Regions from separate parts of the Homo sapiens genome. Here region 2 is linked to region 1. The links come from fine-mapping of genetic effects on gene expression. A gene starts in region 1. The other region holds a variant in brackets. All regions are shown on one strand. Distances are between the middles of the regions.

Region 1 (4,384 bases):
CCCCCTGCCAACCCCAGCCCGATCCCAGCTCCAGAGCAGCCCTGAGGATTCCACATATCCAATGCCTCACAGTCTGCAAGCCTGCTCACCCACTGCTTCTGCTTTAAGCCAGAGGCACCTGGAACCCTGGACTTCACTGGGAGGGCCAACTTGGAGGATCAGTGCTGGCTGACAAGCCCTCCGCCTCCTTGCCTGCAGAGGGCCTGGCACTATCACCACCTCTCTGCCTTCATGCCAATAATAAAGCTGATCTTTATTCCACCTCTGTCTCATGCATGTTGGCGAAGGAAGACTATGGGACCCAACGACTGGGGCCACATCAAGAGGGAGGGAACCAGGATGGCTTCAGTTAGATTCATCCCCATCCTAACACGTTCATCCAATCACTTCTTCATACATTCTTCAAAGACCTTAATAAGTGAAACTTTGTATGTTTTTCCTCAGGAGAGAGGCCCATAGTTGTTTTTTTTCTTTTTTCCATAAAATCCGAATCCTACACACGACCCATAGTTCTCAGCAGATTCTCAAACGAATTCCTGACCACTAAAGGAGATAACTTAGTATAACTCTGCTTTGATCCATCTATTCTGAATTATTTTAATAAGGATAATAACAGCTAATATTTTCTTTGAACATTCACTACATGTCAAACCGTGTGCTAGGTGATTTACAAGCATCATCTCATTTAATTCTCACAACAACTCTGAGAACAGGTACTATATATTATTCCCACTTTACCCATAAGGAAACTGAGGCTCTGAGAAGATGAGTCATTTAAGATAATTCATCAGTTTGACTTCAGATCCCAAGATCTTAATCAGCAAACCTCTTCCTGGCATGTCGATTTTATTGGGATGGTTTTTAGAAAACATACATTTTATTGGGTCAAATGCAAAGTTTGCATTAAGAAGATAGAAGCTTTCAGATGCTTTGGGCTTTGTCCCAGAACCCTGGAAGACCTTTCACGCTCCTCTTTGATGACAAAACTGGAGAAGTATTGTTTAAGGATGTCTCCCCCTGCCATGCAAGTTCTCTGAAACCCTCAAGAACTAACAACAGAGTTTTCGAGCTCTGTTTTACAAATAAGGAACTTAAAGAACTGAACTTGCCCACGTTCACATTGCTAGGAGGTGACCCACTCACATTAAATCAGCTGTTTTGGCACCATGTTCCAATCAGCAACCCGCAGCACATCCCTGCCAACCCACAGATTTCCCACCGCTTTACCAGACAAGCCCTTTCACACCCACCGGCCCCAAACCAGCCCCTTCTCTCAGACCCATACCTTTTCTCTAGCACCTCTCCTTTACTTTTCCCAAGTTTCTTCCCTTTCCTTCAGTCACGCCCCGTTATCCCTAATCGGTCCTGCCCTTTCCCCACAGCTCCGCCCCTGCCTTACCAAGCCCCGCCTGCTCCCTTCAGCGTCGCATCGCTTTTTCCAACTTTGTTCTTTATTTCTAGTCCAGCTCCACTTTCCAGGCTCATCCAAAGCTCCGCCCTTTCTCTCGCGAGTACTCTTCTTCTGTTTAGCCCCACTTTTTACCCCGCTATTCTAACAGGCCCCCGCTGTGCGGTAGCCCCGCCCCCTCCCACAAGCCCCGCCCCACAGACCGGTCTAGTCTCCAGCCCCGCCCCGGTCCTACCCATAACTACCGGTCCCTTAGGCTCCAGCCCGCATCCCTCTTGCTCCCGGCCCTGCCCCCAGCCCCGCCCCGTGACTCTGGCCCCGCCTCACCGCCTTCCTCCGAGACCAAGGCCAGGTCCCTCCCGCAGCCGCGGCGCCAGCAGGAGGCAGGGAGCGGATAGGGAGGAGGCAGAGGGGGAGGGGAGAAGGGCGGGCTCCTCACGCCCAGCCCCGCGCTCACCGTCCGTGGTTGCAGATTCGCCACAAACCGCCCGACGACCCCAGATCCCGAGTACGGTGACTTCAGTCTCCAGAAACTCCACTCTAAGATGGGAGAGCTAGAGAAGCCCTGTGGGGTGTCCAGGGTCCTTTCTGAATCCCGGAGCACGGTCTTTCGAGCCTCAGCGGGCGGGCGGGGATCCGTGGCGAAAGTGCAGCTCAGTAGCGCCGCGGCGCCACGTTTACCCTGCGCAGACGCCGTCGCCGCCGCTGCTGCCGCCGCCGCTGCCACAGCCTTTGCCGCCACGGTCTCCGCCGCCGCTGTCCTCGCGCTGCCTCTGGGAGCCTCCATTGTTCCAGCAGCGCCCGGTCCCGAGACCGGGCATCTTGGGGGCTCGCGAAACGGGCGGCGGCCGACGGAGTTGAGACCCCAGGGCGCCGGCGGGACCAGGAGCGGCAGGGGTCAGCTCAGGAATCCCGGGGAGCCGGGACCAAAGCGTGGGGCGGCAGGGGGCCGGGGTGGCGAGGTCTACGGTCTCCGGAGTTGGGGCTCCCCCTTCCCGGCCCGACTTTCCCCGCCGACCTCCCCAAGTGGGGTCGGAGCCCCGGCGGGCGCCCCCGGCGATGAGCCCGGACTCGAGGTGGCCGGTGAGTGCGGGCCTGGGACCAGGGCGGGAGTGGCCGGCAGGGAAGGGGTAGGCTACGTTCGTGGGACGCGCACTGAGCCGCGTGGCCCGGGAACCTCTCTGGCAACTCCAGTTGGGAGAACTGACAGTGCATTGCTTCCCAGCAGGCATCCTGGGGCAACAGTGTATCTTTCGGGGCTGCCCGGGCTAGTGGCAGGCGGGGAGCCTTGTTTCACTTGTTACACTTCCACAAAGGGGAAACGCCGCCGCATCCGGAGAGTGGGCTGCGGGCACTGCCGGGGCCCAGCCCTATCCCTCCGGCCCCCGCCCCTTACTTCCTCCAGCCCCCTGAGCTTCAGGGGCAGATGCAGCCGCCATTCTCCTTGGGCCCTCCCCACGGGCTTTCTGGTCTAAGTTCTCGTCTCCCTCGCCTGTGCCTCTGCTGCCGGGTTCCAAGGGGAGATTGCTGATTCGCTGTGCTACTTTGGGAACCATTCACCCGGGACCCAGCTTGGAAAGAGGAGAGCTTGTTTGTGCTTCGGTTGGTTTATGTTTAAAGACACAGCCGCAGGTAGGAAATAGAAGAGTTGCAGTTGGACGTGTAGCGTTACTGATGTGAAAATCAGGAGCCGTTGACAGTGGAGCTGGAGCAGCCCACTTGCCTGGTTAAGGCACAGGTGGAGAGGCCAAGAGGGGTTATTTTGTCAGGGAGCTCATGATAGCCCTGCCTGGCTGGGATGGTGCCAAGCCCCTAGCTGAATGGTTGAACTCAACTAGGCCGAGAGAAATTGGGGCAGTCTCTGACCAAGCTGGGCTTCCTGAGGCCTGGTGCCATCTGCTGTCTACACTCACCCAGGAATGTTGGGGAGCGGGGAGGGAGGGCCCCTGCGGACCAGCATGGAGCTGAGCATGCCTAGATTGTCGCGTTCGTGTTTGTACCCTTAGGGCCTGGCACTTGGTAGTCACTCAGTTGATGTGTGAGTGGGTGAACAGCTCAAATGTAATACAAGCTGCTGTCACTGACTAAATGACCTCAGTTTTCACTTTGTTTCACAGTACATCTCCTACCCAGTACCAGGGCCAGGCTCCCCATAAAGACCTCAAAAGTAAATGAATTCTTTCTGTGATCCAGTGATTTCTGCAGGAGTCCAACGCTAAAGCATTAGCCACCCACCCATTCAGCTTTCTACATGGCCTTCATCCCATCTGAGCTCTCAGTCTGGTGATCCCCTCATTCAGCTATTCGTTCAACAGGTCATTCATTCGTTCGCCAAAAACTGAATGTCCAGTGCATGCTAGGTACTGGGGATACAGAGGTGGATAGGCTCTGGTACCCTTGCTACACAGCTCCCAGTCCAGGGGGGAGACAACTTTCAGTATGTCAAGTGCTGTGGTAGAGGTGAGAATGGAATGCTGTGGAAACAGCTCCCCATGGGAGAGTCAGAGAAGTTGTGTCAGAAGTGACATTTGAGCTGGTTTTTTGAAGAATGAGTAGGAGCCCACCAATCAGAAAGTATGGAGGGCATTCCAAATAGGGATCATTTTGCAGGAATGAGAGGTTATAACATTCAGGGAATGGCAAGATCCCCTGTGTAGACAAAAACAGCTGTAACTTGTAAAAAGAAAGGAGGACTAGGGCCAGTCAGTGAAAGGAGCTCTTTGAATGGCATCATAGAGAATTTGGAATATTATCTTGAAGGAACTGGGAGCATCAGGAGGCTTTTAATGAAGAGAGTGTCATGATCATTACTACCTGGTAGAAAGATCATTCTCCTACATGATGTGAGATTGGGCTAAAGAAGTTGAGACATAGGGCAGGATAACCAGGCAAGAGGTGATGAGGGCCCAGATATGGGCTATGGTGGAGGAGATGGCATTTGGAGACACTGTAGAGGTAGGCTGGCCAGAATCTGGT
Region 2 (4,384 bases), 22 kb after region 1:
GTCTCCAGGTGTGCGACTGCTGCGACAAGACCCCATCGAATGCCTTTTCTCTTTTATCTGTTCCTCCAACAACAACATCGCCCGCATCACTGGCATGGTGGAGCGGCTGTGCCAGGCTTTTGGACCTCGGCTCATCCAGCTTGATGATGTCACCTACCATGGCTTCCCCAGCCTGCAGGCCCTGGCTGGTGAGTAGGTGGGTCCCCTGCCCCCAGGCCTTCCATCAGCTTTCAAGATCTGTTCATTTCTCCCCTGGTTACCTTCTCAAGGCTTCCTGCCTTCCCAAACACTTCCCCTATCCAGAACCGCCCTGCCTGGTCTGATCAACTCCAGTTACTCATCCTCCCTATGCATCCCTAAAATGTCAGCACCTCACTGGTCTGTGCTTTTTGCCCAATGGGTTCAATGCCTAATCAGAAAAATATCTGTATACAATGTACAGTAGTTTGGGGTTAAGAGCATGCATTCTGGGGACAGACCCATGCCTGGTTCTGAACCCCAACTCTCACTTGGGCACATTATTTAGCATCTCTGTACTAAAGTTTCTTCATCTGTGAAGTAGAATAATAATAGCACCTACCTATGCTATTATTGGAGTTGTCATGAGGGTTGAAGAAAGGAATATACATACTGCACCTAGCACAGTGTTTGGCACACAGGAAGTATATGTAAAATTCAAGCTGGTATCAGCCAGGCGCAGTGGCTCACACCTGGCTAACACAGTGAAACCCCGTCTCCAGCCTGGGCAACAGAGCGAGACTCTGTCTCAAAAAAAAAAAAAAAAAAAAAAATTCAAGCTGGTATCATTGTAGTGAATGGGATAGTTTTGTATCTAAGAACACGTGTGTTCTTCACAGTAGCCCTGTAAGGCAAATGTTTTACAGAGGCAAGTGTATCGATTGGCAGATGTGAGAACCAAGCTAGGACAAGTGCTTGGGAACTGCATAGCAAAGAGACAGACTGCCTCAAAACAGGAGAATGTTTTTGGTGCTTAGAAACCCATTCCTGGCCGGGCGTGGTGGCTCACGCCTGTAATCCCAACACTTTGGGAGGTCGAGGCAGGCAGATCATCTGAGGTCAGGAGTTCAAGACCAGCCTGGCCAACATGGTGAAACCCCATCTCTACTAAAAATACGAAAATTAGTCAGGCGTGATGGCAGGCACCTGTCCCAGCTACTCCGGAGGGTGAGGCAGGAGAATTGCTTGAACCCGGGAGCAGGAGGCTCCAGTGAACCAAGATCAGACCACAGCACTCCAGCCTGGGTTACAGAGCGAGACTCCATCTCAAAACAAACAAAAAGAAACCTGGGTCAGGCACGGTGGCTCACACCTGTAATCCCAACACTTTGGGAGGCTGAGGCAGGTGGATCACCTGAGGTCGGGAGTTTGAGACCAGACTGGCCAACCTGGTGAAACCCGCTCTCTGCTAAAAATTAGCTGGGCGTGGTGGCAGGTACCTGTAATCCCAGCTACTCAGGAGGCTGAGGCGGGAGAATCATTTGAACCTGGGAAGCAGAGGTTGCAGTGAGCTGAGATCATGCCATTGCACTCCAGCCTGGGCGACAGGGCGACAGGGCGAGACTCCGTCTCAAAAAAAAAAAAAAAACCTGGCCGGGCGTGGTGGCTCACACCCGTAATCCCAGCATTTTGGGAGGCCGAGGCGGGTGGATCACGAGGTCAGGAGATCAAGACCATCCTGCCTAATACGGTGAAACCCCGTCTCTACTAAAAATACAAAAAAAATTAGCC[G/A]GGTGTGGTGGTGGGCGCCTGTAGTCCCAGCTACTTGGGAGGCTGAGGCAGGAGAATGGCGTGAACCCGGGAGGCGAAGCTTGCAGTGAGCCGAGATCGTGCCACTGCACTCCAGCCTGGGCGACAGAGTGAGACTCTGTCTCAACAAAAAAAAAAAGAAACCTGTTCTTGAGTCTCAGCTCCTGGCTTAGTTAGTCATAAGGCCTCAAGAAAGTCATTCACCTCTTCCGGCTTCTCTTAGCTTGTTTGTAGAATGGGAATAACAGTTTCTATCTAGAAGGGCTTTGGGAGTGAATAAAGCAATCATGAGGCAGTGTAGTGTAATGGGTTAAGAGCACGGCGTTAGCCAGGTGGGGTAGCTCATGCTGGTAATTTCAGCACTTTTGGGAGCCCAAGGTGGGAGGATGGCTTGAGCCCAGGAGTTTGAGACCAGCCTGGGCAACATAGTGAGACCTCATCTCTACAAAAAATAAACAAAATTAGCCAGGCATGGTGACACAAGCCTGTAGTCTCAGCTACTCAGGAGGCTGAGGTGGGAGGATCGCTTGAGCCTTAGGAGGTCAAGGCTGTAGTGAACTGAGATTGTGCCACTGCATTCCAGCCTGGGTGACAGAGCAAGACCCTGTGTCAAAAAAAGAAAAAGCACAGGTCTTGGTGTCCCAGACCTAGGTGCAAGATCTTATCTCCCCCATGTCCTTTCTTAAGTAAGTTAACCTCTTCTAAGCCCTCATTTTCTCCACATGTAAAATGGGAAAACAGCAGTACTGTCAGTGGGGTTCTTGGGAAAAGTAAGCATGATAATATATCTGAAGCATGTTGCCTAGCACTTGATCATAGAAGCTGTTGCTATATTGTGGTTATTTTTTTAGATCATGAGTGTGAACACTCTTTCGGAAAGGTTAAGGAACTCAGTTGGGGAGCTCCTCAAGGGAAGCAAGTCCTCAGTCCCTGGACTAGACTTGGGCTCCGGGGCCAATTCATAGCAGGTGCTCAGAAAACATGTGTAGAGGGACAGGACCCAGGCCTAACCCTTTCCCTTGCACATAAAAGTGTCCACTATCCCATAGAGGGTGGGGAGGTAGGAGGGGAACTTAGGAAAAGCACTCTTGTGAGGTAGAGAGCTCACTTACTAGCCTAAGGACAGGAAGAACTTGAAGATGCCTGATGCTTGCCCTCCTCCTCACTCCCCGCAGGGCCAGAGGTGGAGGCTCATCTCAGGAAGCTGGGCCTGGGCTATCGTGCCCGTTACGTGAGTGCCAGTGCCCGAGCCATCCTGGAAGAACAGGGCGGGCTAGCCTGGCTGCAGCAGCTACGAGAGTCCTCATATGAGGAGGCCCACAAGGCCCTCTGCATCCTGCCTGGAGTGGGCACCAAGGTGAGGCCCCAGGGGGTAGGAGCTGCCCTCTCTACTGACACTAAGAGGAGAGCAGGAAATGAGCCAAGCCTGGGAGCTGGGTGGAGGCTTGGCTTCCGGAGGCAGAGCAGGAAGGAGAAAGGATATAAGTAGATGTTTTATGAGAGAAAAAAGCAGAGTGCAGAAAGAGTAGAAAGGATATAGCCCTTTGAATGAATTTCTAGAAAGACCATTTGTTCAGATGCAACACATATATGCTGCTATATATATGCAGCAATTTCCAGAAGGAAATTGCAGGAAACTAAATAATAGTTTCCTTGGGGGAGACAAATGGGAAGATATTTCTTCTTTTCGGTTTTTTGTTTGTTTGTTTGTTTTGGTAGAAATAGGCTCTTAACAATGTTGCCTAGGCTGGTCTTAAACTCTTGCCCTCAAGCAGTGTTCCTGCTTTGCCCTCCCAAAGTGCTGGAATTACAGGGATGAGCCACTGCTCCCGGCCACATTTTGTTCCTTTCGTAAAATGACATGTACTGACAAAACTTTTTGCTTGATGTCAATAGGGTTAACTGGCAATAAGATGACTGGAAATTAGGCATTTGTCTTTTTTTTTTTTTTTTTGAGGTGGAGTCTTGCTTTGTTGCCAGGCTGGAGTGCAGTGGTGCAATCTCGGCTCACTGCAACCTCCGCCTCCCGGCTTCAAGCTATTCTCCTGCCTCAGCCTCCAGATTAGCTGGGATTACAGGCATGCGCCACCACACCCAGCTAATTTTTGTATTTTTAGTAGAGATGGGGTTTCACCATGTTGGGCCAGGATGGTCTCAATCTGACCTCGAGATCCACCTGCCTCAGCCTCCCAAAGTGCTGGGATTACAGGCGTGAGCCACTGCACCCAGCCTTTTTTTTTCTTTATACTTCTCTGTAGTTTAAAAAATGAATTTTTGCTTAAAGATTTTTTTTTGATGGGCTTTGGACTACAGCCTAACATTAAATCTTGGTTCTGCCTATTCTCAGCCATGTGACTTTGGCCAGGTCACTTCACCTTTCAAAGCCTCAGTTTTCTTGTCTGTAAAGTGGGTGTGGTAATACCTTCTTCCCAGGTTATGATAACCTGGCCCACATAGGTGTTCAGCTAGTAGCACCTCTTATTACAGCAATTTCAGTGTATTCATAGGCCGCGCATGGTGGCTCACGCCTGTAATCCCAGCACTTTGGGAGGCCAAGGTGGACAGATCACTTGAGGTCAGGAGTTCGAGACCAGGCTGGCCAACATGGTGAAACCCC

The links. PIP is the estimated chance that this variant, and not a neighbour inherited with it, causes the effect.
Region 2: its variant is fine-mapped to the expression of BRPF1 in whole blood (TOPMed, PIP above 0.99).

The regions. Positions count from the first base shown.
Region 1 is chr3:9,729,648-9,734,031 of GRCh38, forward strand. It overlaps BRPF1 (bromodomain and PHD finger containing 1), which reads left to right and starts at 2,088. Exons shown (of 14, transcript NM_001003694.2): 1 at 2,088-2,491. CPNE9 (copine family member 9) reads left to right here. Exons shown (of 21, transcript NM_153635.3): 21 at 1-261. The coding sequence ends at 45. RefSeq lists enhancers at 1,524-2,083, 2,644-3,203 and silencers at 1,547-1,906, 2,377-2,426, 2,437-2,566.
Region 2 is chr3:9,751,762-9,756,145 of GRCh38, forward strand. It overlaps OGG1 (8-oxoguanine DNA glycosylase), which reads left to right. Exons shown (of 7, transcript NM_002542.6): 3 at 9-188; 4 at 2,943-3,124. Among named protein-coding and RNA genes, the nearest start is that of OGG1, 4.0 kb to the left of the region's middle. The variant G/A (reference allele first, on the strand shown) is at 1,750.